Homo sapiens: one gene and its partners. The protein of the gene in region 2 purifies or fractionates together with the protein of the main gene of each other region. This does not show direct contact. Each region holds a gene or a part of one and is shown on either strand. Other genes may lie near its edges. The genes, in order: FAM114A2, KIR2DL1, FAM114A1, STEAP3, PHLDB3, UBE4A and PLCH1.

Region 1 (3,500 bases), on a different chromosome or scaffold from region 2:
AGAGGGCCATGTTTTAAGAAGGGCTTTGAAAAACTGGGTGAATCCAGAAAAGAGTCAGCTAGATAGTGTGAATCAAAAAGTGTCTGAGACAGGTCTCAATCAAGTTAGAGGTTTATTTTGCTAAGTTTGAGGATGCACCTGGGAAAAAGGAACACAAACCACAGAAACAATCTACCTTCCATACTTTTTTTGAAGAGGGTCTGGTGACTTCAATATTTAAAGGAAGAAGAGTGGGCTCTAGGGGAAAGAGGAAGTAAAGAAAGGGGAGGGTAGATAAGAGGGGCAAGTGGTTGCCTTCTTTTGAATCTTTGATCAGTGTTCACTGAATCCACATTTTACGTGTAAAAGGAAAGAGCAGAGGTAGAGTCAATTATGTATTTGTCTTATGCTCAGTAAATTGGCAGTTTACATGAAATAAAGTAAACGTAGAGTAGCTACCTGTGGAAACATCTGGCCTTCTGTCTGGCCTTTCTGCTTAGGAACAAAAGGAAAGACAGTTTTTGTGTAACTTAGCTTTCAGCTTAACTGTTCCCTTTGGCATAGTAAATTTGGGGTCCTGAGTTTTATTTTCTTTCACAATAGTGAAATGTCTAGAATTAAAGTCTTACAAGAGAAAGTCTTATAAGAGATTGAATCTGGTAATCTGGAGAAGGGAGATTGGGAGAATATCCTGGTCTTTTTCTGAAGACTAGCATGGAGAAGAGGATTAGGTTTATTATTCATGGTTTATGGGGAGAACTAGTAACTAGTACCACTCAGTGGAAGTTATATAGAGTTAAGTTTTAGTTTAATAAAGAGTTTAACAGGGAGAACTTTCCAAAATTACAATGGACTGCCTTTTGATACTAAACCCCTTCTATCTTCTAAAGTTCCTGAGGAAGGAGGTTAATTCCTCTGCCAAGGATGTGTCTTGTAGTCAACATGTATATTTTCAGAATTTTGAGATAAGCATAGGCCATTGATGGAAATCATTGATCATCTATTAGGGATTTTGTTTTCTTCCTTTAAAGGGGGCTATCTTCTGCTTTCCTTTTGTCGGCGGGCAGTTAAGGTATTTGCAACTTAAATTGATGCTTTAAGGCTTTTTTTTTTTTTTTTGGAGAGGGAGTCTCACTCTGTCGCCCAGGCTGAAGTACAGTGGTGCGATCTCAGCTCACTGCAGCCTCTGCCTCTTGGGTTCAAGTTCTTCTCCTGCCTCAGCCTCCCAAATAGCTGGGATTGCAAGCATGGGCCACCATGCCTGGCTAATTTTTGTACTTTTAATAGAGGTGAGGTTTTGCTGTGTTGGCCAGGCTGGTCTCAAACTCCTGACCTCAAGTGATCCTCTTGCCTCGGCCTCCCAAAGTGCTGGGATTACAGGTATAAGCTGCTGTGTCTGGCCAAGACTTTTTGTAAAGCTTGTTTAGGGTGAGTCTATAGTGGCCTTTACTCTAACTAAGTACTGTTTATCTCTGCTGCTAAGGCTTGACTCTTCCGAAGTCTCCACCTTAATTCCCAGGTGTTTAATATAAAGTCTCTGCTTTTGTGGTTGGAGGTCAAATGTCTCTCAGCCTAGCGTGAGCTCTGGGGATTGCTTAGCTTAGAGCTCCATGGTAGTTCTTTGTACAGACTTATGGAGCCTCCCAGTGCCTCAGCAGTGCAGTATTTAAGCAAAAACACCTAAAGGTGTCTTAGGGCATGCCTATGCGGATTCTTAGAACTTTTTAGCTATGTAGCTTCCTCCTCTACGGTTTTCTGACCTGCAAATTCCGATTGCTTCAGCATTCCCAGATTCCAGTCTCCGTTTCTTCCACTCAAACTGATTGCCATGCCCTACTTGGGTTTCTCCTCCCTCTGTCATGGCCTGGAAAGCTCCTCTATACAGAAAGCCAAGCCAATTGTAAGGTTTACTTTGTTGTTCTTCTTGTGTGAACCGAAGTCTTGTACTGCCTATTGTCCTATGTCTGAAGACAGTTGCTTCTTATATATTGTCCAGTTTTTCAGTTGTTGTGGCAGGAGGTCATATCTAATACCAGTTAATCCATCATGCTAGAAGTGGAAGTCCTCTCTATAATATTTGATAATACTGAAATTATTTGGTATAATGGTTGTTCTCCTATGTGAAATTTTTAAGTTAATGGATTTTTGTTTTGAAACATACCTATCTTTGTAATGTATGTCTGTTTGATTTCTACTAATCATAATTTTCTAGGATAAAATTTAAAATAGACTGGATTTTTAAAAATCAGGTTTATCAAATTATAATTTACACACAGTAAAATTTATTCTTTTTAGGTGTACAGTTTTACATGTTTTGATCAGTATATATACTTCTGTTTATACTGTGTAATCATAGTACACTGTGATTATACAGATATAGAAAACATTCTATATAGAATGATCAATACAGATATATAGAATGTTTCCTATATCTGTATTGATAATTGAGACATAAGAAAATTTTTATTACCCCAAAAAGGTTCTCTCACGTCCTTTTGTAGTCACTGTTCTCCTTACTCTCAGTTCTTAGCAATTACTGATCTGTTTTCTGACCTTACAGTTTGACCTTGTCCAGAAGATTATATAATTGGAATCATACAACATATAGGCTGTTGTATATATCAGCAGTTTGTTTACAAAACTGGATTTTATTTTCGAAATGAAAAGAAAATGAAAACTGCCTATCTTAGCTTTCATTTTAAAATAAGCAAATGGTTTAAAATGATAAAAAGGGCTAAGGCCTAGTATGTAGTAAGCAGGGTCTAGTTTTAAAAAATTCACATAGATGCTAATAAAGCCTGAGAGTTAAGGGACCTTCCCTTCATGTTTACACATCCCCTCCCTCTTGTAGGAGAGACAAATGCCAAAGAGAATGAAAACTCCTCCCCAGTGGCTGGGGCATTTGGTGTATTCTCTACCATCTCTACTGCTGTTCAGAGCACAGTAAGTAAAAAAGTGCAAGGTGGTCTGTTCCTTTCCATTATTATAATGGGTTTGCATATCTTTCTCTCTCTTTTCTTTGAACAGCCATGTGGACTGATTACTTTTAAAGGAGTCCAAGCCACTGAAGATCGGTCACTTTGGTCTTATGGGTGGAGTGAATGCTACTTGAAAACTTTCATTAAAGCAATAAGGAAGAAAGTAGGAAATAAAGGAGTAGCAATAAATAAGGGAGTAGGAGTTACAGAGAGGCAATATACGTATTATTTTATGGATTAGGAATTCTTAATTTGGTGGCCCTAAAAAATGTCTACTTTACAAAAATATTTTTCTCATAGTTGCATCTTTTAGGCAAAGGGGAAATGTGATCTTTATGACAGATATTTGCAAAACTATGTATGATTAAAAACATTTGTAAGAGGATTATCTAGGAAGCTAAATATCTTTGCTACATGAGGATAGATAGCTAGTTTTTTTTAAATTTTAACTTTTTATTGAAATATACATACAGAAGAATGTAACAAGTGTTGTTTGAATTTTCAGTGTGAAACACCCAGAGTAAGAAACAGTATTACCGTAAT
Region 2 (4,168 bases):
GTTATTTGCAAACTCTGTGCCATTTCATATAAGAGGCTTGAGCATCTACAGATTTTGGTATCTGAGTGGAGATCTCGAAACCAATCACCCACGAATAGTGAAGGATGACCGTATATGACTTTTATTTCTCAAATTTAAATATAAATCATAAAAAATGTACAACTAGATAAAAACTAAGAAGTGTTTTTATAGTGTGAGTTAGATTTATTTTTTCCTAGGTATAACCCATTGGTTTAATATTATTTATTGAGAAGACATTCTATGCCACCTTAAACCACACGGCAGCCTTTGTCAACTCTAAAGGGACTGTGTGTACACGGATGTACTTTAGACACTGTTTCTGCTAAGGGGCTCTCTGTGTCCACACTCTTGATGATGCTGCACTTTATGTAGCCTTATAGAACCCTTTAAATTTAGTAGCCAGAGCTCTCTAATTTGTTATTATAGGCTATTTGCTTTTTTTTCTTGAGGCGGAGTCTTGCTCTGTCGCCCAGGCTGGACTGCAGTGACACAATCTCAGCTCACTGCAACTTCTGCCTCCCAGGTTCAAGCGATTCTCATGCCTCAGCCTCTTGAGTAGCTGGCGTTACAGGTGCCTGCCACCAGGCACGGCTAATTTTTGGATTTTTAGCAGAGACACGGTTTCACTATATTGGCCAGGCTGCTCTCAAACTCCTTATCTCAGTTGATCCGCCCACCTCGGCTTCCCAACGTGCTGGGGAAACTTGATTTTCTATAGCATTATGTTACTGGATATTTCTGTAAAATTTAAAATGAGGGAGGGAGAGAGACAGACGGAAAACAAACTCCAGAGTTGGGACTCTGGAATCTTGGGTCATGAGACAAATTTTAGATTAAACTACAAAACTCCAGAATTTACAGGTGGGGTTTTTACTGATAAAGTACAATTCTAAGATTGTAAATAATTGCATAATCCTTCCCTGGGAATTTAAATCATTTTAACTGGTTCTGCTGTAATACTAGAAATACAAGCATGAAAAATTCTAATGGTTTATTAGTGACAATGACTCTGAAAACATTAATAATACCTATTAGATATTTTGCATATTACACAGGAAGAAGAGTTTGAATCTCAGATAAAAACAATAGAAATACATGAAAAGTCTTTCATGTTAGCACAGATTTTAGGCATCTCGTGTTCGGGAGGTTGGATCTCAGACGTGTTTTGAGTTGGTCATAGTGAAGGACACTAGGTGTCAAATTCTAGCGAGAACAATTTCCAGGAAGCCGTGTTCCGCTCTTGAGCGAGCACCCACTGGGCCTCATGCAAGGTAGAAAGAGCCTGCGTACGTCACCCTCCCATGATGTGGTCAACATGTAAACTGCATGGGCAGGGCGCCAAATAACATCCTGTGCGCTGCTGAGCTGAGCTCGGTCGCGGCTGCCTGTCTGCTCCGGCAGCACCATGTCGCTCTTGGTCGTCAGCATGGCGTGTGTTGGTGAGTCCTGGAAAGCAATAGAGGGAGGGAGTGAGGGGATGGAGATCTGGGCCCAGAGGTGGAGATATAGGCCTGGAGGTGGAGTTATGGGCCTGGAGTGGAGATCTGGGCCTGGAGTGGATATATGGGCCTAGAGATGGAGTGATGGGCCTAGAAGTGGAGATCTGGGCCCAGAGGTCGAGATATAGGCCTGGAGGTGGAGTGATGGGACTGTAGTGGAGATCTGGGCCTGGAGTGGAGATAGGAACCTGGAGGGGAGATAGGAACCTGGAGGGGAGATATGGGCCTGGAGGTGGAGATATGGGCCTGGAGTGGAGTCATGGGCCTGGAGGTGGAGTTATGGGCCTGCAGTAGAGATATGGGCCTGAAGTGGAGACATGGGCCTGGAGTGGAGATATGGGCCAGGAGTGGAGATATGGGCCTAGAGGTCGATATCTGGGCCTGGAGTGGAGATATGGGCCAGGAGTGGAGATATGGGCCTAGAGGTCGATATCTGGGCCTGGAGAGGAGATATGTGCCTAGGATGGAGATACGGGCCTGGGTGTGGAGATATGGGACTGGAGAGGATATATGGGCCTGGAGTGGAGATATGGGACTGGAGAGGAGATATGGACCTGGAGTGGAGATAAGGGCCTGGATTGGAGATATGGGCCCAGGGTGGAGATCTGAGCCTGGATTGGAGATATGGGCCTGGATTGGCGATATGGGCTTAGGGTGGAAATATCGGCCTGGAGTGGAGATATGGGCCTGGAGTGGAGATATGGGCTTGAGGTGGGGATATGGACCTGGAGGCTGGGTCTCTGCACAGCCGACAGCCCTGTTCTTGGGTGCAGGTAGGCACTGAGGGTGAGTTTACCTTCAGCCCAGGAAGGGCCTGGCTACCAAGACTCACAGCCCAGTGGGGGCAGCAAGGGTGCCCTGGTTTGCCTGCAGATGGGTCATCCATCATGATCTTTCTTTCCAGGGTTCTTCTTGCTGCAGGGGGCCTGGCCACATGAGGGTGAGTCCTTCTCCCAACCTTCGGGTGTCATCTCCCCACATAAGAGGATTTTCCTGAAATGGGAGGGAAGTCCTGTCAGGGAGTCTCTCATAAACTAGGAAGAAGGGACCCTGGGGTGCTGGGCCCACATTTCTGACCTTGCCTCCCTGGCCTTTCATTCCCTTGGCAGAGTCAAGTTCTGTGGGGACCAGGGTTAGACTACGGTGCTCAAAGCTGGGGTGTGTGGTGGGGAAGTGGTAGGAACAGCAGATCCTCTGAGGACAAAGGTGTTACTCACACACTTCAGCGTTTCCATGACGGTAGGGGCTGCAGTGTGGCTGCTGTCATTCTACCAGAAGAGGTGGGAAAACCACAGCCATGGCCCTGACATTCCAATCCTCTGATGGGGACTCAGTTGTTTATTTTCGTTCAGGCATCGGCTGATATTCCATTCTCAAAGGACATGCCCTCCACCCCATGTCTACCCTGTGTTGTTTTATGTGAGTAATCTTACAGTATTAAAATCTAGTAGGAGTCTCTTACTCAGCACTTGCTCAAAGTTCTCAGCTGACACTTTTGTTGTAGGGAGACACCTTGTGTTTGCGGGATGGGTCCTTCCTTTAGCCCTGGGCACCAAGGTGTGATAGCAGCCATAGAAACTTGGAAAGCGAGGAGAATCTTCAGAGCACAGGGAGGGAGGGGCGGCTCCACATCCTCCTCTCTAAGGCGGTGCCTCCTTCTCCCCACGGTGGTCAGGACAAGCCCTTGCTGTCTGCCTGGCCAAGCCCTGTGGTGCCTCCAGGACATGTGATTCTTCAGTGTCATTCTTATCTTGGGTTTAACAACTTCAGTCTGTAAAAGGAAGATGGGGTGCCTGTCCCTGAGCTCTACAACATAATATTCTGGAACAGCCTTTTCATGGGCCCTGTGACCCCAGCACACGCAGGGACCTATACATGTCGGGGTTCACAACCACACTACCCCAGTGGGTGGTCGGCACCCAGCAACCCCCTGGAGATCACGGTCACAGGTCAGAGGGCTCCTGTCTGGGATTCTCCTTGTCCCACCTCCTGAATCCCAGAGCTCCTGGTGGGCGTGTCCTTGCGGGTCCCATCATGCAAGTCCTGACTGTATTTGGGGTAAAGGGGGATTGAATACAGGGAAATGGGTGCTGTGGTGGGAAGAATAATTGTCCCCAGTGATGACTACATTCTAATCCCTGGAGTCTGTGACTATTTATGATATAGGGGAAGGGACTGAAGGAGAAGATGGAGCTCAGGTTGTTGATGAGTTGACCTTGAGATGGGGAGACAGCCTGGACTGTCCTGATGGGCTCAGTGTAGTCACAGGGGTCCACATGAAAGGAGGAGGAAGAGGGGAGTGGGGATTACAGCAGCATAATGGGAGTCTCCATCAGCTTTGAAGGTGGAGGAAGTCCAGGAGCCATGAATGCAGGTGGCCTATAGAGGCTGGAAAAGTCAAGGAACTGATTCTCCTGAGTCTCCAGAGGGAACGAAGCCCTGCAGGTGCCTTGATTTTACCCACGACAAACAGGGTCCGATTTCTGTCTCCAGAATTGGAAGGGGTTAGTGTGCTCTCTCCTGGTGCCATGCTTCTGATAATTTTCTACAGCAGCAACAGGAAACCAACACTGGAACCCAGGTCAAGGACAAGTTAAGAAACAACACAAGGATAGCCAGGCATGGTGGCAGGTGCATGTAATCCTAGC
Region 3 (2,717 bases), on a different chromosome or scaffold from region 2:
ATATCCAGACCAGTTGTTTGAAAGCACAGCCGTGACCTGGCCAGACTCCATCTAGTTAAAGGAGACAGCTGGCCGCCTTGCCTCAATATGTACCATTTAAGGGGATGTTCTCTGTGCGCCTGGCCACAGACATCCATTTGAGGACACTACAAGCAATTTTGCACAGACAATATTGAGAATGCAAATTTAGAGAGAGTTATCATTTCTCTCAATGTGTATAATTGTTTTTACAAACAATTGTGTTTTCTTTATGTTAATTTAAACTTACACAGCTTATATTGAAAATTTCCTTTCATCTGAAATTTATTTACAAATATTCGTGTTCATTTTCCTGGTTAAGCATGCTATATTTAGAAACTCATGGGGAGACCTTAGACTTTTGTTTAATCCTTTATGTTTCAACCTTTAAATGTTCCATTCTTATAGTATTACTTTAAATCAATTCTAAAACTGAACTTTGTTTTGTTACATAAATGTCGCAGGCAAAAATAACACTACTTATAGATTTTACCTATTATGGTAAAAAATAGGAACATATTGTCATTCTTTTTTTTTTTTTTTTTTTGAGACAGAGTCTCACTCTGTCGCCAGGCTGGAGTGCGTTGGCACAATCTCGGCTCACTGCAACCTCCGCCTCCTGGGTTCAATCGATTCTCCTGCCTCAGCCTCCTGAGTAGCTGGGACTACAGGTGTGTGCCACCACGCCCAGCCAATTTTTTTTGTATTTTTAGTAGAGACAGGGTTTCACCATGTTGGCCAGGATGGTCTCGATCTCCTGACCTCGTGATCTGCCCGCCTCAGCCTCCCAAAGTGCTGGGATTACAGGCTTGAGCCACCGCGCCCGGCCGGTCATTCATTCTTGCAACAAGCATTTATTGAGCACCTACTGTGTGCTCACAGTAAAGAAACGTGATCTTATCCCAGTAGAGGTAGATATTCTGAAAAAGAATAATTCTTAAACTGCTTAAAACAGGGGTCCCCACCCCCAGGCCACAGACCAGTACCAGTCCGTGGCACTGGTTAGGAACCAGGCCACACAGCAGGGGGTGAGCGGTGGGTGAGTGAGCACAGCTTCATCTGTATTTACAGCTGCTCCCCAGAGCTTGCATTACTGCCTGAGCTCTGCCTCCCGTCAGGTCAGCAGCAGCATTAGAGTCTCATGGGAGTGCGAACCCTGTTGTGAACTGCACATGCGAGGGATCTAGGTTGTGCACTCCTTATGAGAATCTAATGCCTGATGAATCTAATGCCTCATGATCTGAGGTTGAATAGCTTCGTGCCGAAACCATCCCCCACCCCCATCCCGCTACCCCGAGTCCGTGAAAAAATTGTCTTCCATGAAACCGGTCCCTGGTACCAGAAAGGTTGGGGACCACTGGCTTAAAATACCAATAAATTTTTGAACCTTAAAAACTTTGAAGAACAAGGTAAATTGGTGTTTTATTTAATGTCCTACCCTTTAATTTGTTGCATTTTCCTATACTCTTTACACTATTTTATCCCAAACTATGTATATGAGGTGAAAATATATATGAAAAGGGATACTGAAGAATATTTAGTTTAAAATTAATTTCTTACGATCACGAGCACATGGTGGCATAATTACAAAGCTTGGAAGTATTCAAATAGAAAATCAAAGGTGTTTCAATACAGTAGAATCCCAGGACTGCATTTTAAAATCGCCTCACAGATCACACTCGCTGGTGGCAAATATCATCATCGTTGCTAAAGGACAGAAAATACTGATGTGTGTTTTAACTAACTGGTATATTGATCCATGGGAGGCTGCACAGAAGACCCTGCGGCCAGGAGGGGCATTGTCAGTGGCTGCTTCTCCTGAGCTCCACGCCTTCATTGCAGCTGCATGTTCGATACAATACACCTGCTTCACAGCCCCATGGACATCCCTACAGGTACTGTCATGTGAAGCCTTGCCTAGTAGTTCTCTCCAGGGCAAATGAAGCTCACAGTTTTGCAAGGTGGAAACCTCTTATTCACATTTGCTTTGATTCCCCGATGGAGTAGACTGCCTTTGTTCCATACAGGCAAAGTAAGGATATTTTAATATCATCCTACTTCTTATTAGCATTTCATTTGTCTATGTACTGTATTTCATTTGTATGTCTCCTGAAACATCCAAATAGAGAACATAAGAACACTTTATGTACAATCTGGAAAAAAATTACCTGAGAAATCAATTAAAGATTTTTCCCCTTTTCTGATTGCCAGAAATGTTTTTATTAAGTCTAGAGAATGATTAACTGATGAAAATGTTGCATTTACCTCTTCATCAATTTTAGACTTTTTATGTGTAGGGCAGAGGAAATGATATAGATTTACAATTTCTTCACATCAGTTTTTTGTTGTTTTTTGTTGTTTTGTTTTTTGCATCAGATGGGTTTAGATATTAAGTGGAAATGTAAAAGAGAAACAAGTGGCAGGGCTCAGTGGCTCACACCTGTAATCCCAGCACTTTGGGAGGCTGAGGTGGGCGGATTACCTGAGGTCAGGAGTTCGAGAGCAGCCTGGCAGACATGGTAAAACCCTGTCTCCACTAAAAATACAAAAAAATTAGCCGGATGTGGTGGGTCGCGCCTGTAGTCCCAGCTACTCGGGAGGCTGAGGCAGGAGAATCGTTTGAGCCTGGCTGGCAGAGGTTGCAGTGAGCCAAGATACACCACTGCACTCCAGTCTGGGCGGCAGAGGGAGATCCCGTC
Region 4 (3,500 bases), on a different chromosome or scaffold from region 2:
GGAGCCAGGGCCCAGACAGGGTTAGTCACACCCTCACCTCAGGCCGCAGGGACAGGCCTCTGGGACTTCCAAGACATGTACCACCTGTCCTGCCCCCAACCCCTGCCAGCCTTCAGCAGGAGGGTTCATGCTGAGCATCAGGAGGGGGCAGAAGAATTGAACGTGGCCACTGTCCATGAAGAAGTTAGAGAAGAGTACACACAACACACATGCACACAAGAATAGGACACGTGCACACACACACACACATGCATACAAGATTAGGAAACACAAGTGCACACACAACCAGTCAGAAATGAGCTCTGAGCTTTTACACATATTAACTCATTTCATCCTCAAACAGTCTTTAGAGAGGTATAATTAGTGTTCCCGTTTTAAAGGTGAGGGAACTAAGGCACAGAGGAGCTATGTAACTCACCCAAAGGCACCCAGCTACTGGCATGTGAGGCCATGATTTCTCCCCAGCAGCCCCACCCACAGCCCGTGCCTTTAACCACCTGCCTGACCCCTCCCAGCCAAGTGGCTCCGTCCCTACATCAGAAAGGTCAAGGAAGAGGCCGCCTAGGGAGCAGTACAAGGCAGCATTACAACCTGGCATTTTCCTGTTGCAGACTGCATTTTGGTGGCAAGAGAAGCTTTGGAGGTGCTTAACGTTTAGTTTGCATTTATCCTACCGCTGAAAAGCAGGGACCCTTAGGACCATAAGTCTAGGACTTTTCATAGCACCCTAGACTGCTGGGGATGAAAGGGGCTTGGAGCTGAGCTGGTGCAGCAGCTCCTGTTAGAGAAGCCACCCAGAGAGGCCCAGGGACCTCCTATGTCCCAGCGCCAGTTAGGGGCAGACGTGGGACCAGCTCCCCTCGGCTGCAGCGGCCTCCATATCAGCTCCCTGGAAGGGAGCAGATGCCAAGTCAGGTTCTGAGCAACACCCTCAAGGCCCAGCCCTGGCAATCCCTTCCCACCTGTGATTAGGTCTGGGGTTCAACAAAAATAGGACTCAAAATCTGGATCTTCTCGCCTTGCTTCACTTTGGGCTGGTTCAGTTTTGTTTCGAGGTAAATCATTCGAGGTTTTTCAGGGATCCTCAGATGCATGTCTGCGTGAAGCCGTCCTGGCTTCCCCTTCGGCTGCCCCCTGGGCAAGAGCCTGGGCCATACCTGTGCCATTCCTGAGCTCTGTCTCTAGCTGCCCTATGTCCAGTCATTGGCGATGGGTCTTATTCAAGCCCCCTTTCCCCCAACCCACACTAGATTGTAAGCCCTCAGGGTGGGGACCGCTTCTCACTCATCCTTATATGCTTAGGAGTGTTCAGCACAAAGTCACTCAGGAGATGGCAGGCAGCGGGGAGAGGGCAGAGACAGAGGAGAGGCTTCTGTCCAGAGGGTTCCTACTTAGGATCATCCAAATCATCAGCAAATGTTGGAAAGATGGTCTGGGGGCCTCAGGCTGGCTACTCTTCCTCCCCATCAGGGCAAAACTCCCCGGGGGCTTGTGTCTCCCTGTGGTTGGGGACAGGCCTGGGTGTATCTGTCCCAGCCTTGACTGACCACAAGGGGAGACTTGGCCCTCCCGACCACAGGAGAAGAGGGATTTGAATTCACCTCGGCCCAAATTGCAGATGCTGGCCTGCGAGCCCTGAGGCCATCTGCAAGGCTCCTGGGCTGACATAACTGTCACCCAGCTCTTCATCCTCCTTCCCCGGGGCTGAAGGGGTGCCTGCAGGGTCTTCTGCCCTCCCTCCACCTGGGCCCTACTGCTGGCACGGAGCTTCATTTCTGTTGGCAGCCAGTGTTTGCTTAGTGATTACTGAATGCCGTTTGCTGGGTGCTTATGATGTGCTCAGCACTGTTCTAAGTGCTTTACACAATTGACTTATTTACTCCTACAACCTGCCCATAAGGGAAGTGCTGCCATGGTCTCCCTTTTATAGCTGAGAAAACTGAGGCACAGATAGGTCCATGGTCACACAGTTAACATAAGGCAGAGTCAGGACCAGAATCCAGGCGGACTGGCTCCAGAGCCCGGCTCCTGGACCGAGCAGCCTTGAGTAGGGACCTGGTGCAGACCCGCCTGCCGTGGACTCACTATAGGATGGGTCAGGAGGCCCGTTGTCACCTACAAAATGTAGCCCACCACCCAGGAAACGCTCCCAGAACCAGGCAGAAAATACTGTCTCCTATTCACAGGGTGGCTGTGCCTGGCGTGAGTGTCTTGGCGGGTGCCTGCATGTCTGTGCAGGAGTGCCACCCCCATCTGTGGACTCGGAAAGCATGATCCCCACAAAAGCAACCCCTCAGAGTCTCAGCTCAGCCAATCCCTGTTATCCTGTGACAGGCAGGGCCATGTTTCAAAACCATGTTAAAGATGAGCAAGAGGCTAAGGAAGTTTCCCATGCTGGCAGAGGCAGGACAGGAACACATGTCCCCTGACTCTTGACATTGAGAATGCACCCCCTTCCACCCACCTGGCCTCTTGTCCCAGCCAGTGTGGTCCCAGCTATGCAGCTCTCTGGGACATCTCTGGAAAGCTCATTGTTCTCTGTCTGGGCAGTAAGACGGAGTGAGGCTCTGACTGCCGAGGCAGACAGACCTGCCTCCTGCTCTTCCTCCCCTCAATTATTTGTGCTGCCTGAAACAAGTTCCTGAGCCTCCCTGAGCCTCAGTTCCCTCCTCTGTAAAGTGGGAATGATAACTGAATCTACTTCCTGGGGTTCTTGTGAGGACCAGAGGCCCATCACCCGAGGAAAGGCCTGACAGCAGCAATGGGTGTATGGTAGGCATCCATTAATAGGAACTGCTGCTGCTGCTGCTGCCTTATAAAAGGAAAAATCACAGTTTCAAAAACCTCTTAAGATTGCATGATTTGTCATCTGAGAGCAGAGATTGTGATCTCCATTGACAAAGATGGAAGCTGGGGCCCAGGGAGGCACACAGACTTGTCTGAAGACACACAGCTGCTTCATAGCAGAGCCGGGCCCAGCCTCCTGGTTCCCCTGCCCCATCTTTATGTCAGTCCCTGGATCCACTCCCTCACCTGGTCAGGTGTCCAGAGGTTCCAGGAGAGTGTTGTGGAAAAGTAGGAAGAGGCAGACGCCCATGGAGGGTGTTGAAAGCCACCCCAGCTGCTCTGCTGCTTCAGGGCAGGGGATCTTAAGCCCTGTGGAACTGTAGGCTGGTGAAGCTTGTGGACTTCTGCTCAGAATAATGTTCTTACATGCACCAGACAAAATAGCTTAGGGTTACAAATGAAATATATTATATGGAAACACAGCGAAAATATTTTTTAAAAAAGACTACAGTAGCATTAGGCATGCTTCTTTATTAGCACATTAAATGACAAGCTCTAGTGGCAGATCTAATGTCTACCATAATTTTATTTTTACTTTTATTATTATTATTATTATTATTATTATTATTATTATTATTATTTTGAGATAGTCTTGCTCTGTCACCCAAACTGGAGTTCAGTGGTGCGATCACTTCAGTCTTCAACTCCTGGGC
Region 5 (3,072 bases), about 11 Mb from region 2:
ACATCTGTGAAACGGAGATAAATGTACTTACCCCTTCAGGAGAGTTTGAGGGGGCAGAGATTATACCTAGAAAGTACTTAGCAGAGGATTATATTCATTAATTTCATCACAACAATAATAATGTAAACAAGCTCTCTCTTTCTTTTTTATTTTTGAGACAGGGTCTCACTCAATCACCCAGGCTGGAGTGCAGTGGTGCAATCATAGCTCAATGCAATTTCGATCTCCTGGGCTCAAGTGATCCTCCTGGGCTCAGCCTCCTTAGTAGCTGGAACTACAGGTGTGCAGCACTAGGCCCAGCTAATTTTTTGGATTTTTAGTAGAGATGGGGTCTCACTATATTGCCCAGGCTGGTCTCCAACTCATAGCCTCAAGTGATCCTCCCACTTCAGCTTCCCAAAGTGCTGAGATTACAGGCATGAGCCACTGCACATAGCTTCTCTTCTCTCTCTCCTTTTTTTTTTTTTTTTTTTTTTTTTTTTAAATAGAGAAGGGGTCTTCTGTGTTGCCCAGGCTGGTTTCCAACTTCTGGGATCAAGGGATCCTCCCACCGCAGCCTCCTGAGTAGCTGGAATTACAGGCTTAAGCCACCACACAGGCTCCAATCTTCATTTCTTTTTTCCAAAAAAAATTTTTTTTTTTCAGAGACAGGATCTCACTATGTTGCCCAGGCTGCCCTTGAATTCTTAGGCCTAAGGGATCCTCCTACCTCAGCCTCCCAAAGTTCTGAGATTACAGGCATAAGCCACCACACCCGGCCCGATCTTTATTTCTTTTGATAGGCCTCTGATGTTTCAGGGTGAGCTCTAGGGTCAGAAATACCTGGGTTCGTGTCCCAGTTCTGCTGCCTAGAAGCTCTGTGTGACCTCGGGTGCATTATGTCATCTCTCTGTACCTCATTTTGCTCATTTGTAAAATGGGGCTCACAGTTGCCATGAAGTGCCAAGGAGCTGATGTCCATAAAGTCCTGGGCAGAGCATCACAGTCAATCCACGTAGCCGTTGCATTTGTCAGATGGTCCTAGTTAATATTACCCTCTAAAGGCTGTAGCGGGCCTTACATGCAAGCTGCTATGACTTGCTCCCCTCGAGGGGCTCCAGGCTGTAGAATCCCCCGCCCCTTACATCAGCTGCCCCGTCTCTTTGCTCCCCAGGCCCCACCCACCCCACCCCACCCTCCAGGCCCGCGAATCTTGGATCTCCGGCAGCATCTGGAGGGATGGGGCCACAACCCGGAAAACTGCCCACATGTGCAGGTGTCTGGGTGCTGCTGCCGTGGACCCCTGGTGAAGATGGGCGGCCGCATCAAGACCTGGAGGAAGCGATGGTTCTGCTTTGACCGCCAAGCCCGCCGCTTGGCCTACTATGCGGGTAAGCCCAGCCTGGCCACCATGGGCCCCAGGACGCTGGAATTCCACTCCGGAGGCCTTTCCTCTACAGGCACCAGAAGTCCTGGCCCCCACTTTCCATGTTCCCCAGGATCCAGAAGTTTGGTTCCCTAGCTCCTAACTTCCCTACAACCCAGGAGTCCAGGCTCCCAGCTCTCTCTCTCCTCCAGACCCTGGAATCCAGATCCCCAGCCCCTCTTTAAGCCACCCAGAATTCAAACCCCCAGTCCTCCTCAGGGACATAGATAACAGTTTAGTACAATTCAAGCTTCCCAGGGCCCATGTTCCTAAGACACCCATGAGTCTGAACCTGCACTGTCAGCTGCCCCCAGCCCCCCAATGGCCAGGAGTCTGGGGCCCTTGTCCTTCTTCTCTAGGAGAATCAATTATTCCAAACCTCTCCTTGGACACTTTTTTTTGTTTTTGTTTTTGTTTTTGTTTTTTGGAGACAGAGTCTTGCTCTGTCGCCCAGGCTGGAGTGCAGTGGTGCGATCTCAGCCCACTGCAACCTCCACCTCCCCGGCTCAAGCGATTCTCCTGCCTCAGCCTCCTGAATAGGCGGGACTACAGGCTCATGCCACCACACCTGGCTAATTTTTTGTATTTTTAGTAGAGACAGGGTTTCACTGTGTTAGCCAGGATGGTCTCGATCTCCTGACCTTGTGATCTGCCTGCCTCAGCCTCCTAAAGTGCTGGGATTACAGGCTTGAGCCACTGCACCCAGCCTCCTTGGACGCTTGTATTGTCTCAAATCCTTCTTCCCTAACCTGTATGACCATTTGACTCTACTTGGTGAGTCCTGGCTCTGTCAGCTCTGGCTGTGTGACTTGTGCTGGGTGCCTTAACTTCTCTGAGTCTTGGTTTCCACATCTGTCAGATGGAGATAAATGTACTTACCCCTCCAGGAGAGTTTGAGAGGGTTAGAGATTATACCTAGAAAGCACTTGAGCACTCCCTGAGTTCCTTCCCTTCTCAGAGGCCGAGCATTCAGGGCCTAGGATTCCAGCTCCACAGACCCCACTCCCCAATCATGTCCAGTTTCTGTGCCCAGTCTCCCATCCAGCGTTAACATTCACTCACCTCCCAACCTTTAGAGACCTTCAGACTCTTGTCACCATGTTTCTTACCCAAATCCAGTCTCAGGACTTAGGGCCAATGACCCTCACCTCGACACACACAGACACACCTTTCTCACTGGCTCTCTTTTTCTCTTACCTCCCCTACCAGACAAGGAAGAGACCAAGCTCAAAGGTGTCATCTACTTCCAGGCCATTGAGGAAGTCTATTATGACCACTTACGCTGTGCCTTCAAGGTGAAGCCCCTCAATGTCACCCTGACCTCCCAGTTGGAGACTCAGTTGGAGTCAGGCCTTATCTCATCCCTGGCTCATCCTGGGGAAAGCCACCCGCAGCTTCTCCTGTCAGGGTACTCATAGGAGTACGTGTTTGTCGCAGAGAAAACAAACAGGTCACCTGACTGCAGGGACTAAAAATTAAGAGCCCAGACTCTGGCCTTCAGCCACTGTTAATTTTCTTCTTTTTTTTTTTTTTTAAGACAGAGTCTCATTCTGTCGCCCAGGCCTGAGTACAGTGGCGCCATCTCGGCTCACTGCAACCTCCGCCTCCCTGGTTCAAGCAATTCTCCTGCCTCAGCCTCCTGAGTAGCTGGGATTACAGGCACCGTG
Region 6 (3,500 bases), on a different chromosome or scaffold from region 2:
TCTCTTCCATTGACCAACCCTCTGGTGATCAGTTTTTTTCTGATGCTAATGTTCCAGGGATGAGGAGAATTTCTGTGCCACTGTGCCCAAGGATGGACGTTCCTATTCCCCAACTCTCTTTGCACAGACAGTTCGAGTCTTGAAGAAAATAAATAAGCCTGGGAATATGATTATGGCTTTCAGCAACTTGGCAGAGAGAATCAAGGTGAGGAAGAGGAGGAATTGTTTGCTGATTTCATTAAGAACCACGTTGTCAGCCAGGCATGATGGCTCAAGCCTGTAGTCCCAGCTACTTAAGAGCCTAAGGCTAGAGGATCACTTAAGCCCAGGAGTTTGAAGCTGCAGTGTGCTATGATCATGCCTGTGGATAGCCACTACACTCCAGCCTTGGCAAGATAGCAAGACCCCATCTCCTAAAAATCCATGCAAAAAAAATCAGATTGTCACCTCAGCTGTGCTGATTTTTACTCTATTTCAGGGAGAAAAAGAGCATTACCAAGAGAAAATATAAACAGATGGTTCTTTTTGGACAGTCACTTAGAACTACAATATTCTTAGTTTTATTCTTGTCAACATGAGAGTGAGAATAGAAATTTAAGAAATCGGCTGGGTACAGTAGTGGCTCATGCTTGTAATCCCAGCATTTTGGGAAGCCAGGGTGGGCAGATCACTTGAGGTCAGGAGTTCAACACCAGCCTGGCCAGCATGGTGAAACCCTGTCTCTACTAAAAATACAAAAATTAGCTGGGTGTGGTGGCAGGCGCCTGTAATCCCAGCTACTCGGGAGGCTGAGGCAGGAGAATCGCTTGAACCTGGGAGGCGGAGGTTGCAGTGATCGCAACCACTGCACTCCAGCCTGGGCAACAGAGCGAGATTCCATCTCAAAAAAAAAAAAAGAAAAAAGAAATTTAAGGGCCAGGCGCGGTGGCTCACGCCTGTAATCCTAGCACTTTGGGAGGTCGAGGCGGGCAGATCACAAGGTCAGGAGATAGCGACCATCCTGGCTAACACGGTGAAACCCCATCTCTACTAAAAATACAAAAAATTAGCCGGGCGTGGTGGCAGGCACCTGTAGTCCCAGCTACTCAGGAGACTGAGGCAGGAGAATGGCGTGAACCCAGGAAGCAGAGCTTGCAGTGAGCCAAGATAGTGCCACTGCACTCCCGCCTGGGCAAAAGAGCGAGACTCCATCTCAAAAAAGAAAAAAAAAAAAATTTAAGAAACCTCAACTAGAAGAGAAGAATGTGCACATTTATGTAAGATGTTTTTATGAAAACGTTTATGCACAGTGTTACCAATAGATTTTAAAAGCTAGGGTGTTAATGCAGAATAACTTTTTAGAAAAAAAAAAAGATGAGTAGTTTTCAGTCATTAATTTTTATTTGGATTGTCTCTATGTTTGTAGTTGGTAGTTGGCTTTTATTGGAATATGCATACATTTTAAAGATTAAAATACTATATTGTATTTAGCTAAATCCCTTTGGTTAGAGTATGACAGAGCTCTATTAGCAGGTAAGAAGAAGGAAGATCATGGCACAAAAGTCTAATAGAAAACCTTCCTTATTGCTGTCAGTCTTCCCTCTATTGAGTTTCTTTTTTATTGAGTTGGACTTCATCTTTGTTTAGAGCTTAGCCAGGTGGATCCCTGAGGAACTCAAGTTGTGAAGGAATTAAATGTCAAAATGACTTTAAAATTCCTATACCTGTTTGTATCAAAAATCAAAAACTGCTTTTCATACGCAGGCTGCATGAGTGACTCTAATTATGCAAATAATACCCTCCTCCATTCTCCCTTCTCCATCCACTTTTGAATTATGGCATTTACAACAGAACTGTTGCCAGATGGATGTTATATCTGATGTATTTCTTTTCCTCCTAACATTTAAACCCATTTCCAGTATGACTGCCAGCAGCTGAGCCAACCTAAAGGTCCAGAGTTGGGGCTCAATGCTTAATTTGTTCTTAGAATATCTTGGCTTGTTTTTGAGAAAATGAAGCTCACGTGTGTCACTGTCACTGTCAAGGGTTATTAATGACCTGTTTTTTTATTTTTGAGATGGAGTCTTGCTCTGTCATTGAGCACGCTGAATTCAGCTACACTGTGAATTCACTTTAACTACCAGATGTTGTATACTCAGTCTCTTGCAGACCTCCAACAACAGGAAGAGGAAACCTATGCAGATGCCTGTGATGAGTTCCTGGATCCCATTATGAGCACACTGATGTGTGACCCTGTGGTGCTGCCATCTTCCAGAGTCACTGTGGATAGATCCACCATTGCAAGACATTTGCTCAGGTAGGCCAGTCCCAAAAACAGACTCAAGAGCATATATATATATTAGTTTGCTATCTTTTTCTCCCAGGCACCTAAGACAGTACTTTGCACCCAACACATACCACATATTATTGATTTACTGATATGTTGGAAGACATTTTGGTTTCAATTGCTAGGATATAAACATTTCAAAACAAAACATTCTGTTGAGAAATGCTAACTCTAACCTCACCTCTTCCTGCCTTAAGAAAATAATTTCTGGCCGGGTGCAGTGGCTCATGCCTGTAATCCCAGCACTTTGGGAGGCCGAGGCAGGTGGATCACTTGAGGTCAGGAGTTTGAGACCAGCCTGGCCAACATGGTAAAACCCCGTCTCTACTAAAATACAAAAAATTAGAGGGGCATGGTGGTGCGCACATGTAGTCTGAGCTACTCAGGAGGCTGAGGCAGAAGAATTGCTTGAACCCAGGAGGCAGAGGTTGCAATGAGCCGAGATCGCACCACTGCACTCCAGCCTGGGCTCAGGTGATCCTCCTACCTCAGCCTCTGGAGTAACTGGGACTACAGGCATGCACTAACACGCCCAACTAATTTTTGTATTTTTTGTAGAGACAGGGTTTCACCATGTTGCCCAGGCTGGTCTTGAACTCCTGGGTTCAAGCGATCCAACCGCCTCAGCCTCCCAAAGTACTGGGATTACGGGTGTGAGCCACTGTGCCTGGCCTGTTTTTTTATTTTTGCGACAGAGTCTCGCTCTGTCACCAAGGCTAGAGTGCAGTGGCGCGATCTCAGCTCACTGCAAGCTCCGCCTCCCAGGATCAAGTGATTCTTCAGCCTCAGCCTCCCGAATAGCTGAGACTACAGGTGAGCACCACCACATCTGGCTAATTTTTGTATTTGTAATAGAGATGAGGTTTCACCATATTGGCCAGGCTGGTCTTAAACTCCTGATTTCAAGTGATCCTCCCACCTCAGCCTCCCAAAGTGCTGGGATTATAGGCATGAGCCACCTCACCCAGCCTGCTTTTTCTAATTCAGGTTTTACACTATATTCACCATGTGGATTAACTCACGTTCTGTTGCTGTTGTTGTATCAGCTGTGGTAACCATGAACTTTCCCCAGCCTGCCTATTCTTCGGACAGTCTGCCCCATTATAACTATAGAAAAGACAGGAATGAAGCAATAAATGGTAGCTTATTAGCTGCTTAATGGGCCCCTTAACTT
Region 7 (3,500 bases), on a different chromosome or scaffold from region 2:
CAGTCCGGCCTGGGCGACAGAGCGAGACTCCGTCTCAAAAAAAAAAAAAAAAAAAAAACAAACTTGAGCCAGAAATAAATTAAAATCTGAAAGTGTTCTATATCACCTCCATCTTCTCTGCTAAATAAATGTCCATTTATGAGTCATACTCTTTATTCCTTTCAAGATGTGTTCGGGTTGGGATCCACACATCACAGTGTAGTGGATATTGGTTGAACAATGAATGAGCATAAGACTAAAAATCCCCAAAACTAAGAGAAAGGGTTTATAGACATGTATGCATTTTTTCTTTTGTGTTTACTTGTGACACCCTCTTCAATGAGCCCCAATTGTGTTTTGTTGTGTTTTGTTTTTTTCCTTTACAGTGGAGCCCTTTAATACTCAACCCCAGTTATACTATATTGCACTTTCTAGGAGCTACAAAGGTAGTTTCTCAGCATGGTGCTTTGTTCTGGCTGGCATATTTCTTTTTAAGTGGTTATGGCAGCATGCTTTTTCATATCACTCCATCTTCCTGCTTACCACTTTGAAACATGCATCTGTTGCTTTAAGGCGCCTGAAGTTCATAGCAGTCTATGAGCTGTGGAGACTTTTCCTACCACTTTGTCATCTCTGGGTAGGAAACTTCTGGGAAAGCTTGATGTAAGAATGGAAGGCTGAAGTCCTTGCAAAGTAAGGTTGATAAGATGTGCATGAAGTTGTGCAAACATGCTGTGAGCTGCTGCTTTCTTGGTTTGAATATATTTCAATGGCTGTACGATTTTGGTTTATATTCATTTTTCATGGAGCTGTCATTTTCAAGGCAAGTTGTTGATGTGATGGCATTTGCTTAACTTGTGGTTGGTTCTTTTGTGTCTTCAGAACAGACAACTCCAGGGTCTGAAGGGACTGTTCAATAAGAATCCTAGGCACAGTTCTTCAGAAAACAATTCCCATTATGTACGGAAGCGATCCATTGGAGATAGAATTCTGCGACGCACAGCTAGCGCCCCAGCCAAAGGCAGGAAAAAGAGCAAAATGGGCTTCCAAGAAATGGTGGAGATAAAGGATTCTGTGTCCGAGGCCACAAGAGATCAAGATGGCGTGCTGAGGAGGACCACACGCAGTTTGCAAGCACGCCCTGTCTCTATGCCTGTTGACAGAAACCTTCTGGGAGCTTTGTCGCTGCCTGTATCTGAAACAGCAAAAGACATTGAAGGAAAAGAAAACTCTCTAGGTAAGATGCTTTAAGTTTCTCTGAGAATAAACCCTTCTAGGCTGCATGTCAGTCCCTGTTTACCATTATGAAGTGGCTGACATTCTGTAGTCAAAGTAAAATATACTGAAAAATAAATACTTTGTAATGTGATCTTCCAGACCAGAAGATTTTAAACTTTGGGGGCCAGGTAGATCCATTTCCTCCTCACCAAGAGCTTCATAATATCAACATCTGAAATTGACAGTGAGGGATAGGGGAGCCATTAGGTGTGATGGCACAGAGAGGAAGATGAAACCTGCAAAATAGGATTTGAAATATTGATTTTCCAAATGAGTGCCATATTTACTGATTTGTTTTGAGGGTGAATATAGTTGTATTACTTTTCTTACCATATAACACATTTCCATGATTGGAAATGTTTATGGAGAAAGAAAGCCAGATGTTAAAAACGAGCCACCTTTTTCAAAAACAGGCAAATCTTTTTTCTCAAGATGTGGCTCAGGCAGTGTTTTCCTGTGGCCTCACTTCCCTGATCCTTGGATGCTGACAGAGATAGAGGTGTGCCTGCAGCTTCAGCACGGTTGTGGGCTCCACAAGCATAGGGACCAGGTGCTGCCTGTCTTTTTCCTTAATTTGAGTGTATCATTGACTCATATCAGGAGCTCAATAAAGAGTGAAGACCGCCTTGCAGTGTGCCAGAGAATTTTTGACTGATGTTGGTGACTCCCAACCCATCCTATCTGGGGGTAAATTTAAGCGCCAAAACTGTGTGCATTTGATATCTCTGCAACAAATATGTTTTAATTAAATCAGAATCATCTCAGACAAGTAAAATGTGGTACTGATTTCCTTTAGCAAAATTATTCTTTTAACTTTTATCAAATGGTCTAATTTCAGTGCTCTCTTTTCCCACAAACACCATTTTACTTGTATTGATTTTTGTTACAAGATATTCTTCAGTGGTTTATTTGAAGGAGAAAAAGAACATTTAAAAGCTTGAAATTTTGCTAAGAGCAGTGTCAGAGAAGAGATAAAACATGTGCCTTAAAATGTATTTTAAAACCCCATCTTTGGGAAAAATAAAGCTATATTCAGTAGAAATTGGTTCTATCTGTTAATGCCACAGTTAAGATGTTAATACCATTAAGGTGAGTTAGAAAGCAATTTTGAGGTAATGTTTCTTGTCTACTTTTAAAAAACAGTTATATAAATTAGTCATGTGTATTAAAGTTTCGGTAAATATAAAACAATACATAGTTATGTTGCATTAAGTACAGAAAAAGCAGACTACAAAATTCTATATATTATTCTGTTCCTCTGCAAAATCTTACAGTGGCTGTCTCAGTGGTAACATCATATGGTATTTAATTTTTTCTTTATAATTTTTTGAGGTTTTCAAAATTTTTATGATGAATATTTTTAGTTTGGAAACTATTTAATAACAAGTTGAACAAGTTCTTTTTCTTATATATCATGACTCTGAAAGCATTAAATTATTAAAATAATCTGATGAAGAATTGAATACCTCATACTCTCCTAGCAGTATACTAACCATGATGGGCTATCCCAAATTACTGTGAATTGTGTTTTTATGGTTTTCCTTTACTGTGCCTGACAACTTACTGCCACTTTTAGGGAAGGATGCAATATGAAATTTGTGTATTAAAAAGAAATATATGATTAACAAAAAATTAGATATTAGCAATGACATGGAATTGATGACCAATTTTTATCTTTACATTTTAACTCAACAGATATTGATATTTTAATGCATTTATTGCACCTTCCAATTATTTTAGAAATTAATTGACTAAATTAAATATGCTCCCAAAATGTTTTGAAAATGATATTATTATGTTTTTCTTCTTTTCTTCTTTTTTTGTTTTAACTAATACATGTATAACTTTGAAAGCTTATAGTATCTTGCTTACAGGTACCACAATGCTTTGTTTAACAGAGCTGTCTTGTTCTGTTTCTATTGCCATGCTTCTGTGTAGTACAAATCTGAATAGGAAACAACTTAAGGTAATCCTCACTGTAAAAGTATGGTAACTCATTGACATTTTTTTGACAATGAATATTACATCCTTAGCAGATGTAATAGATATTCAAAGGGAAGCTCCAGTGAAATTCCTATAAATATATTTTACCATTTATTCATCACACAGACACTTTGTTGCAAACCTATGCAATCCATAATTATATTCTGTCACAGTGTAACAGATTTACATTCTCCATTTGTCTGTCCGAAGACAACATGAGTGTTTGCAGGTCCTACATAAAGTGATAGATGTCACCTAAA

Evidence for each region.
Region 1: the proteins of KIR2DL1 (region 2) and FAM114A2 purify together in Homo sapiens (affinity purification with mass spectrometry; one large-scale study listed by BioGRID and IntAct). This does not show direct contact.
Region 3: the proteins of KIR2DL1 (region 2) and FAM114A1 purify together in Homo sapiens (affinity purification with mass spectrometry; one large-scale study listed by BioGRID and IntAct). This does not show direct contact.
Region 4: the proteins of KIR2DL1 (region 2) and STEAP3 purify together in Homo sapiens (affinity purification with mass spectrometry; one large-scale study listed by BioGRID and IntAct). This does not show direct contact.
Region 5: the proteins of KIR2DL1 (region 2) and PHLDB3 purify together in Homo sapiens (affinity purification with mass spectrometry; one large-scale study listed by BioGRID and IntAct). This does not show direct contact.
Region 6: the proteins of KIR2DL1 (region 2) and UBE4A purify together in Homo sapiens (affinity purification with mass spectrometry; one large-scale study listed by BioGRID and IntAct). This does not show direct contact.
Region 7: the proteins of KIR2DL1 (region 2) and PLCH1 purify together in Homo sapiens (affinity purification with mass spectrometry; one large-scale study listed by BioGRID and IntAct). This does not show direct contact.

The regions. Positions count from the first base shown.
Region 1 is NC_000005.10:154,028,911-154,032,410, reverse strand, and holds part of FAM114A2 (protein FAM114A2), read left to right. Parts: intron 1-2,830; coding exon 2,831-2,922; intron 2,923-3,500.
Region 2 is NC_000019.10:54,768,425-54,772,592, forward strand, and holds the start of KIR2DL1 (killer cell immunoglobulin-like receptor 2DL1 precursor), read left to right. Parts: upstream 1-1,368; 5' UTR 1,369-1,426; coding exon 1,427-1,460; exon of another isoform or gene 1,461-1,467; intron 1,468-2,245; exon of another isoform or gene 2,246-2,424; coding exon 2,425-2,460; exon of another isoform or gene 2,461-2,513; intron 2,514-2,597; exon of another isoform or gene 2,598-2,640; intron 2,641-4,168. UniProt on the Homo sapiens protein: Receptor on natural killer (NK) cells for some HLA-C alleles such as w4 and w6. Inhibits the activity of NK cells thus preventing cell lysis.
Region 3 is NC_000004.12:38,943,523-38,946,239, forward strand, and holds the end of FAM114A1 (protein NOXP20), read left to right. Parts: coding exon 1-35; 3' UTR 36-2,217; downstream 2,218-2,717. UniProt on the Homo sapiens protein: May play a role in neuronal cell development.
Region 4 is NC_000002.12:119,240,834-119,244,333, forward strand, and holds part of STEAP3 (metalloreductase STEAP3), read left to right. Parts: intron 1-3,500.
Region 5 is NC_000019.10:43,477,675-43,480,746, reverse strand, and holds part of PHLDB3 (pleckstrin homology-like domain family B member 3), read left to right. Parts: intron 1-1,153; coding exon 1,154-1,370; intron 1,371-2,614; coding exon 2,615-2,700; intron 2,701-3,072.
Region 6 is NC_000011.10:118,390,600-118,394,099, forward strand, and holds part of UBE4A (ubiquitin conjugation factor E4 A), read left to right. Parts: intron 1-57; coding exon 58-205; intron 206-2,138; coding exon 2,139-2,296; intron 2,297-3,500.
Region 7 is NC_000003.12:155,483,072-155,486,571, reverse strand, and holds part of PLCH1 (1-phosphatidylinositol 4,5-bisphosphate phosphodiesterase eta-1), read left to right. Parts: intron 1-365; coding exon of another isoform or gene 366-425; intron 426-522; exon of another isoform or gene 523-769; intron 770-861; coding exon 862-1,216; intron 1,217-3,195; coding exon of another isoform or gene 3,196-3,206; exon of another isoform or gene 3,207-3,223; intron 3,224-3,500. UniProt on the Homo sapiens protein: The production of the second messenger molecules diacylglycerol (DAG) and inositol 1,4,5-trisphosphate (IP3) is mediated by calcium-activated phosphatidylinositol-specific phospholipase C enzymes.